2 linked regions of the Homo sapiens genome follow. The protein of the gene in region 2 interacts with the protein of the main gene of each other region in a pairwise test. Each region holds a gene or a part of one and is shown on either strand. Other genes may lie near its edges.

What was found.
Region 1: the proteins of NPTN (region 2) and AGTR1 interact in a two-hybrid assay, tested with the Homo sapiens proteins (one large-scale study listed by BioGRID and IntAct).

The regions. Positions count from the first base shown.
Region 1 is NC_000003.12:148,739,175-148,742,996, forward strand, and holds part of AGTR1 (type-1 angiotensin II receptor), read left to right. Parts: intron 1-625; exon of another isoform or gene 626-782; intron 783-1,814; 5' UTR 1,815-1,861; coding exon 1,862-2,941; 3' UTR 2,942-3,822. UniProt on the Homo sapiens protein: Receptor for angiotensin II, a vasoconstricting peptide, which acts as a key regulator of blood pressure and sodium retention by the kidney.
Region 2 is NC_000015.10:73,563,701-73,567,522, reverse strand, and holds part of NPTN (neuroplastin isoform b precursor), read left to right. Parts: exon of another isoform or gene 1-585; intron 586-3,737; exon of another isoform or gene 3,738-3,822. UniProt on the Homo sapiens protein: Probable homophilic and heterophilic cell adhesion molecule involved in long term potentiation at hippocampal excitatory synapses through activation of p38MAPK. May also regulate neurite outgrowth by activating the FGFR1 signaling pathway.

The sequences.
Region 1 (3,822 bases), on a different chromosome or scaffold from region 2:
ATGGCAAAACCCCGTCTCTACTAAAAATAAAAAAATTAGCTGGGCATGATGGTACACACTGGTAGTCCCAGCTACTAGGGAAGCTGAGGCATGAGAATCACTTGAACCTGGGAGGTAGAGATCGCAGTGAGCCAAGATCGCACCACTGCACTCCAGCCTGGGCAATACAGTGACACTCTGTCTCAGAAAAAAAAAAAAAAAGTGTCAAACCTACATCCAAAATGTCAAAGTGCTCAAAAAAGTTGGGAAGGCTTCACCAAAGATGTGACATTTAGGGTAGATAACACCTGTTTGTGGATACTAATGTCCTGGTGAGTCAAAGAAGAAAAGGATGTACATTATATAAGCTGGATGCAAAAAGGAACAATAATGAGGACATGCAACCAAAAACTTACATAGGGAGAACAACTTTACTTACTCAGGGAAGGCAAAGAGACCACTTAAGAACTCCTTCACATGTGTTATGTCTTAAAAGCTGACTACTGGAGTTGTATCCCTTGCACAGCATCCCTTTGCACCAAAGTGAACACTACTCTAAGAACATGTGTTCAGCTCTCCTGAATGCCAAGCACAACCATGCTTGGCATGGCAGTGGTGTCTTATTTCTGCTCCTCTTTTTCCCCAGGGCATGCCATTGCAAGAGAATGCTCAGCCATGTTCATCTGGGGACCTGCTCCTGGTAGAGCAATAGGATCTGTGTGCCCAGCACCACTGCCCACCTAGCTGTCCTGGCCTGTGCCCAATGCTGACCTTCACCTCAGAGTGTGGCTGTACCACATTCGGTGATGTCACTCTCACTGAACCTTCAGCCTCCTTCCTGGGACTTCCTGATGGACTGTTATCCAGGGCAGAATGTGTTGATTTTCTAAATCACATAAATGAATAGCTTGACTGTTGATTATGTAGAAAATCAGAGCAAATATTTGCATGGCTTTGTGCAGCCCATTCTTGAGCATCTGATTCTCCCCAGAATTCTAAAAAACCTGCTGCTTTCTCAAGCCCTCAGTAAAGACATGCTTTCTTGATAATCCTAGCCAAACCTATTCATTTGACATCTTTGTTACACAAATGGTTAACCACAGAGTTAACTTCAGAAATGGCTGGCAGGTATGAAGGTTAGAAGATTCATGCACTTTTGCTAGACTGAATTGGAAGTTAAAGAGTAAGTAGTTACTGACTGCAGAGGCCTGGAAAACCATGGAAAAAATCCTATTCCTCAAAGTCGAGCCCTACCTCCTACGCCTCTTAAATCAATTGCCACAGTGACCAATTTGTCAGTCACCTAAAGGCAGCTATCCTGACCACTTAAGGGAGAATACTTATAATCTTTATACCTAAGTAAAGATTGTGAGAGGAAAGAAATGGTTTAAAGAATATGAATGTGTCACACTTCTGAGGTTAATGATAAATGAATTGGTCCTGCTTACCTCAGGAAAAACTTTCAAGTCTTTCTGAAAAACTAATTTAATTCAGTAGTATTTTCTAAGATTTAGGTTATGTTTTTAATCAATTTGGAAACCAAGATTTACTTATAGAAAAAAAGGAAAAGGACCTAGATAGGTTTATTCACATAGAATCCCAATTTCACTTCTCTGGATGATACCATTTTCTACAAAAGCAATTATGTTCTAAAATTTAAGTGTGCTTTCTTAGGCTTTATCAGTTCACAGTGTTTCCTTAAGAAATATGATCCAGTATTTTTTCCTAAGACTAAAGTTGAGTTACTACGTTTATGACTGAGAAATGAATGTTTGTTAGTTTGTTTGTTTACAATAAGAATTTTTTCTTTACCATTTTATTTTTATTTTCCCCAGGTGTATTTGATATAGTGTTTGCAACAAATTCGACCCAGGTGATCAAAATGATTCTCAACTCTTCTACTGAAGATGGTATTAAAAGAATCCAAGATGATTGTCCCAAAGCTGGAAGGCATAATTACATATTTGTCATGATTCCTACTTTATACAGTATCATCTTTGTGGTGGGAATATTTGGAAACAGCTTGGTGGTGATAGTCATTTACTTTTATATGAAGCTGAAGACTGTGGCCAGTGTTTTTCTTTTGAATTTAGCACTGGCTGACTTATGCTTTTTACTGACTTTGCCACTATGGGCTGTCTACACAGCTATGGAATACCGCTGGCCCTTTGGCAATTACCTATGTAAGATTGCTTCAGCCAGCGTCAGTTTCAACCTGTACGCTAGTGTGTTTCTACTCACGTGTCTCAGCATTGATCGATACCTGGCTATTGTTCACCCAATGAAGTCCCGCCTTCGACGCACAATGCTTGTAGCCAAAGTCACCTGCATCATCATTTGGCTGCTGGCAGGCTTGGCCAGTTTGCCAGCTATAATCCATCGAAATGTATTTTTCATTGAGAACACCAATATTACAGTTTGTGCTTTCCATTATGAGTCCCAAAATTCAACCCTCCCGATAGGGCTGGGCCTGACCAAAAATATACTGGGTTTCCTGTTTCCTTTTCTGATCATTCTTACAAGTTATACTCTTATTTGGAAGGCCCTAAAGAAGGCTTATGAAATTCAGAAGAACAAACCAAGAAATGATGATATTTTTAAGATAATTATGGCAATTGTGCTTTTCTTTTTCTTTTCCTGGATTCCCCACCAAATATTCACTTTTCTGGATGTATTGATTCAACTAGGCATCATACGTGACTGTAGAATTGCAGATATTGTGGACACGGCCATGCCTATCACCATTTGTATAGCTTATTTTAACAATTGCCTGAATCCTCTTTTTTATGGCTTTCTGGGGAAAAAATTTAAAAGATATTTTCTCCAGCTTCTAAAATATATTCCCCCAAAAGCCAAATCCCACTCAAACCTTTCAACAAAAATGAGCACGCTTTCCTACCGCCCCTCAGATAATGTAAGCTCATCCACCAAGAAGCCTGCACCATGTTTTGAGGTTGAGTGACATGTTCGAAACCTGTCCATAAAGTAATTTTGTGAAAGAAGGAGCAAGAGAACATTCCTCTGCAGCACTTCACTACCAAATGAGCATTAGCTACTTTTCAGAATTGAAGGAGAAAATGCATTATGTGGACTGAACCGACTTTTCTAAAGCTCTGAACAAAAGCTTTTCTTTCCTTTTGCAACAAGACAAAGCAAAGCCACATTTTGCATTAGACAGATGACGGCTGCTCGAAGAACAATGTCAGAAACTCGATGAATGTGTTGATTTGAGAAATTTTACTGACAGAAATGCAATCTCCCTAGCCTGCTTTTGTCCTGTTATTTTTTATTTCCACATAAAGGTATTTAGAATATATTAAATCGTTAGAGGAGCAACAGGAGATGAGAGTTCCAGATTGTTCTGTCCAGTTTCCAAAGGGCAGTAAAGTTTTCGTGCCGGTTTTCAGCTATTAGCAACTGTGCTACACTTGCACCTGGTACTGCACATTTTGTACAAAGATATGCTAAGCAGTAGTCGTCAAGTTGCAGATCTTTTTGTGAAATTCAACCTGTGTCTTATAGGTTTCCACTGCCAAAACAATGCCCGTAAGATGGCTTATTTGTATAATGGTGTTACTAAAGTCACATATAAAAGTTAAACTACTTGTAAAGGTGCTGCACTGGTCCCAAGTAGTAGTGTCTTCCTAGTATATTAGTTTGATTTAATATCTGAGAAGTGTATATAGTTTGTGGTAAAAAGATTATATATCATAAAGTATGCCTTCCTGTTTAAAAAAAGTATATATTCTACACATATATGTATATGTATATCTATATCTCTAAACTGCTGTTAATTGATTAAAATCTGGCAAAGTTATATTTACTTTAAAATAAAATAATTTT
Region 2 (3,822 bases):
GTCTGCTTCCTTCCCATGTGCTTCTCCCCAAATTTTCATATAGATATATACGTACACTCCTTTTGGAATAAACGAAGAGGTACATTATATTTGACACAAACTTGGGAGTGTTAAGAGGTCATAAGTGTTTACCTATCAGATAACCATCTGTGGCTCTGTGTTGGATTTTTTTTATACCATTAGGAAAATGGGAATTTTTTTATAGGCCTGCCATACTTCTACTTTGCCAAATAGCACTTTATTATCAAGATACACCCATGGCTCATTTCAGACTCACTGAACTTTTTTTATATGAATGCACAGTCGTCATATTTTGGGCAGTCTGTGAGTTCTTGGTAACTCATCCCCTTACTACAAAAGCACTAAGTGAACAATACAAAAGTATAAAAGCACAAATTTGAACTTACATAGTTTAGTTTAAGTATGTTTCACTAGAAAATCAAATATTTAGATTTCTCACATTGAAAATGCTTAGGATTGAGGTTTAGCTGCTTCCTTTAAAAAAAAAAAAAAAAAAAAAGCCCCATGTCTTTTTTCTTTACCTACTGGAGTATTCTCAGACCATTTCCTACATGAAAACACCCACCTGCATTCCTTTAGTCCCCTGTATGGTCTCTTTGAGGATCAGTGCCCACTAGGTTGTCTTGTAGGTGGACTAATCTACAGATCACCTTTACCTTCAGTATTTTCAGGAACAAGTGAATCATGGAGTCAAATAAGAGCTTTGTTTTGTTCACTTGACTCACCACTTGACTGTATTCCCTGAAAATGTTAAATGATAGTTCTCTAAAAAGACCAGGTCAAGCTAGCAGCCTCTAGGCTTCCATCCATGTCACAGCTGGGCACCTGCTTGGGTGCACCTTCTGTGTTGGTGTCCTGCGGACTGCACTCCAGGAGCAGTCAGCCTGTGCTCCTGAGTCTCCCCTCCCCAGGCCCTGGAGGAATGGGGAGTGAACCCACTTAGTTGCTGAGGCCTGCAGTTCTTCTGGATATTTTAGTGACCTCACAGACAGCAAATTAAAACAGGAGCTGATTTAAGAAAAGAAGTGCTGGTACCAAAAAAGAACTTTCTGTTTTTACCTTGGGATAATTTTTTATAAGCAAGTCAAAGGGACTCTCTTTAAGTTACTGATGGAGAAGATATTTGAGGTTTTTTGGGGGGCCATTTTTAGTGGCTCTGATATATCCAAGCTCTTTTAGACACTTTAGAATGAAGAGCTGTTCTAATGTTCCAAAATCTATTCGTTGGTCAAAACATTTGGTAGCATATGAAGCTTTATACAGACTAGGGATATTGGAAAAGAAATGTGACTTTTAAAATGACACCTAAAACATGCATTCGGTGTCTGGTCTGTTAACTAGGGGCCATCTGGGTCAATAACAAGTTACCTCATGGAGAAAATGCAATAGGACCAAACAAGGAAGGAAATAGGAAGTAACTCAGTCTCTCTTGGGTTTAATGCTAACCTGCTAAGGTCAGGCAAAATTTAAGTGGATTTAGAAACCATAAAACCTTCTAGTGAGATGAATGCAGTGACAAAGGACCTTTGACCAGAGAGTCAACTCTTCATTATTCGGACTTTAAAGCCATCTTTTTGGAGGTGATATTGTATTAGGCAATCCGTTATTTACTAGACATTGCAGAGCACCCCTTCTAGATGATGAGGCGGATATAGGGGGAGTGAGGGCTGTGGTCCATTCGGTTGGGAAGATGGAACACGCAGATAAATCAGTGTGTGCTACAGTTCCACCGGTAACTTCACTCTCATAAGGTGGATTCCAGAAGCATCTTGTTTCCATTATCCCCCCAGTCCTCTTCCTCTCATCTAGCCAGTGGCTGTAATACTGAGGTGGAGAGAACAGTCATTGTTTAAGCTGGCTATCTTTTGGCCTGAGGGTTTGGGGTATGTTGATATTTGTCGGTTACTATGACTTCTTTTTTTTCCCCCCTCAATTGCATCAAACCCTTAAAACATGGTGGTAAGTGAGCGATATGCATGCTTTTGGAGTTTGTTTAATCTCCGCTTCAGTCTATACGATGCACAGTTCATAATGTTAACACTTTTCTTCAAGTTTACTTCATTCACTTTCACAACTAATTTGGATTTCAGTTTGCTGTTTAATCCTCATTTACTTTGGTTTCTGTATCTTTTTTCTGTAATTCTGTTCTTTCCCTCTCCCCTGACTTCCCTGTTAGGGGTCAAGTCGTTTTTTTGTCTGACCTGTAGGGGAGAGTGGTGCTGCAGATAGTGATTCAGTCCAGGAGAGTGGGGAGACATGAGGCTCTTTTGTTTGTCAGTGTGAAAGTGGATTTGGGGAGACAGATGAAGAGGGCTCCTGGGATTTTGCCCCCTTGTGAATCTCAACTGCTCCCACTTGCAGGCATGGCAGCTATGCCGGAGGCACTGTCGCTAAAACACCTCCATGCAACCCTTTGCATGTTACCAGCTTGTTGGGCTGGAAAGTGACATTACTAATCAGACACCAGGGAATACCCACACTCCAAAAGGAAAAACAGCCCGTGGTGTGAGGTGCTTGGGTTGGTGCCTACAGTGTCATGCTTTGAAAAGATTAGCCTGGCTATTGCGATTCTCCCTCCCCTGCTTTTTATTTTAAATTTGGGAGTAGATTGGTGTATTCTTGATTCGGCTCTCTTGCATTAGAATTTTGTATTTTCGAGTGCACAGCCAGAGCACTAAAAGTATTCCAAGTTTGCTCCTATGTCTTTTCATTTAAATCCCCAAAGTGCTTAGTTCCTAGCATGTAGCTGAGCTGGCTTGGCCGGGATGCTGAGCATTAGGATGTTGTGAGGGGAGAATTTAGGCTGGGCTTTTGTGTCTTAGTACCTGGTATGTCTTTGTATCTCTCCACTGCATACACAGCACACAGATGTCTTGGGTGTCCTTAAGTCTTAGTTTGTTCTCTGTACCCGTTTGATAGTGTATACTGTTGTTAGTAGTGGACTCCTGTGGACACTAGTGTGTCGCTAGCCTATTGTTTTGGCTGATGAGTCATTGGTTTGTGGTTAGTTCTTTTTTTTGAAATCCTTTTTTGCTCCAGTCACTGTGTGTGCTGGCGGTGGCTTTGCCTCTCCGTTGCCTCGAAGGAACAGGTGGAGCAATGTCTCCCTCTGACAGACATTACTCCCGACATGTGCTCCTGCAGATGCCTACACTGAGACTGTAATCTCCATAACTGCTTCATGTGCACCAAGCCCCCTTGTGGAATCCTGCTGAGAATTTTTCTAGAAGCCTTCAGTGAAATCAAACTGTTCTGAATCATTTAGTTTACCTGACTTTTGTATAATAAAAACAAACTAAGAGCACTTACTTGTTCCCTTCCCCTTGTGGGTCTTTTTAAAACATTCTCTCTCTGTGAATGTGTATCTCTGCTTAAAGGGGATCAAGTTGCACTTAGTTGAAACACGAAAGACTTATAAATCAGAATCATAAAGTATCAATTTAAGAAGGCTTAAACTCATATAATGTCAGCTTTTTGATTTTAAAAAAGTTATCTCATGGCTCCCCTGGGTTTGGCTTCTGGTTTTGGCCAGGGCACAGGAGTGAGCCTGTCTTTCTGAAGTCTTTTCTAGAGGGATGTCACCACTGTTCAGCTTTCCTCGGTGTGTCACAGAACATCCTCTGGTATACATACACTTGTTGCTGGCATAGCCCAGCATGGCTGACCCAATTTAGGTTGAACTATTGTGATTGCCTCTTCTCAATCTCATTCTCCAGACTAAAGACTCTTCTAAAGATTACAAAACAGCAAGAAAAACAGAGTGCCCTTTGGGGAAGTGAGGATGTGTGGCTAAATGTACAG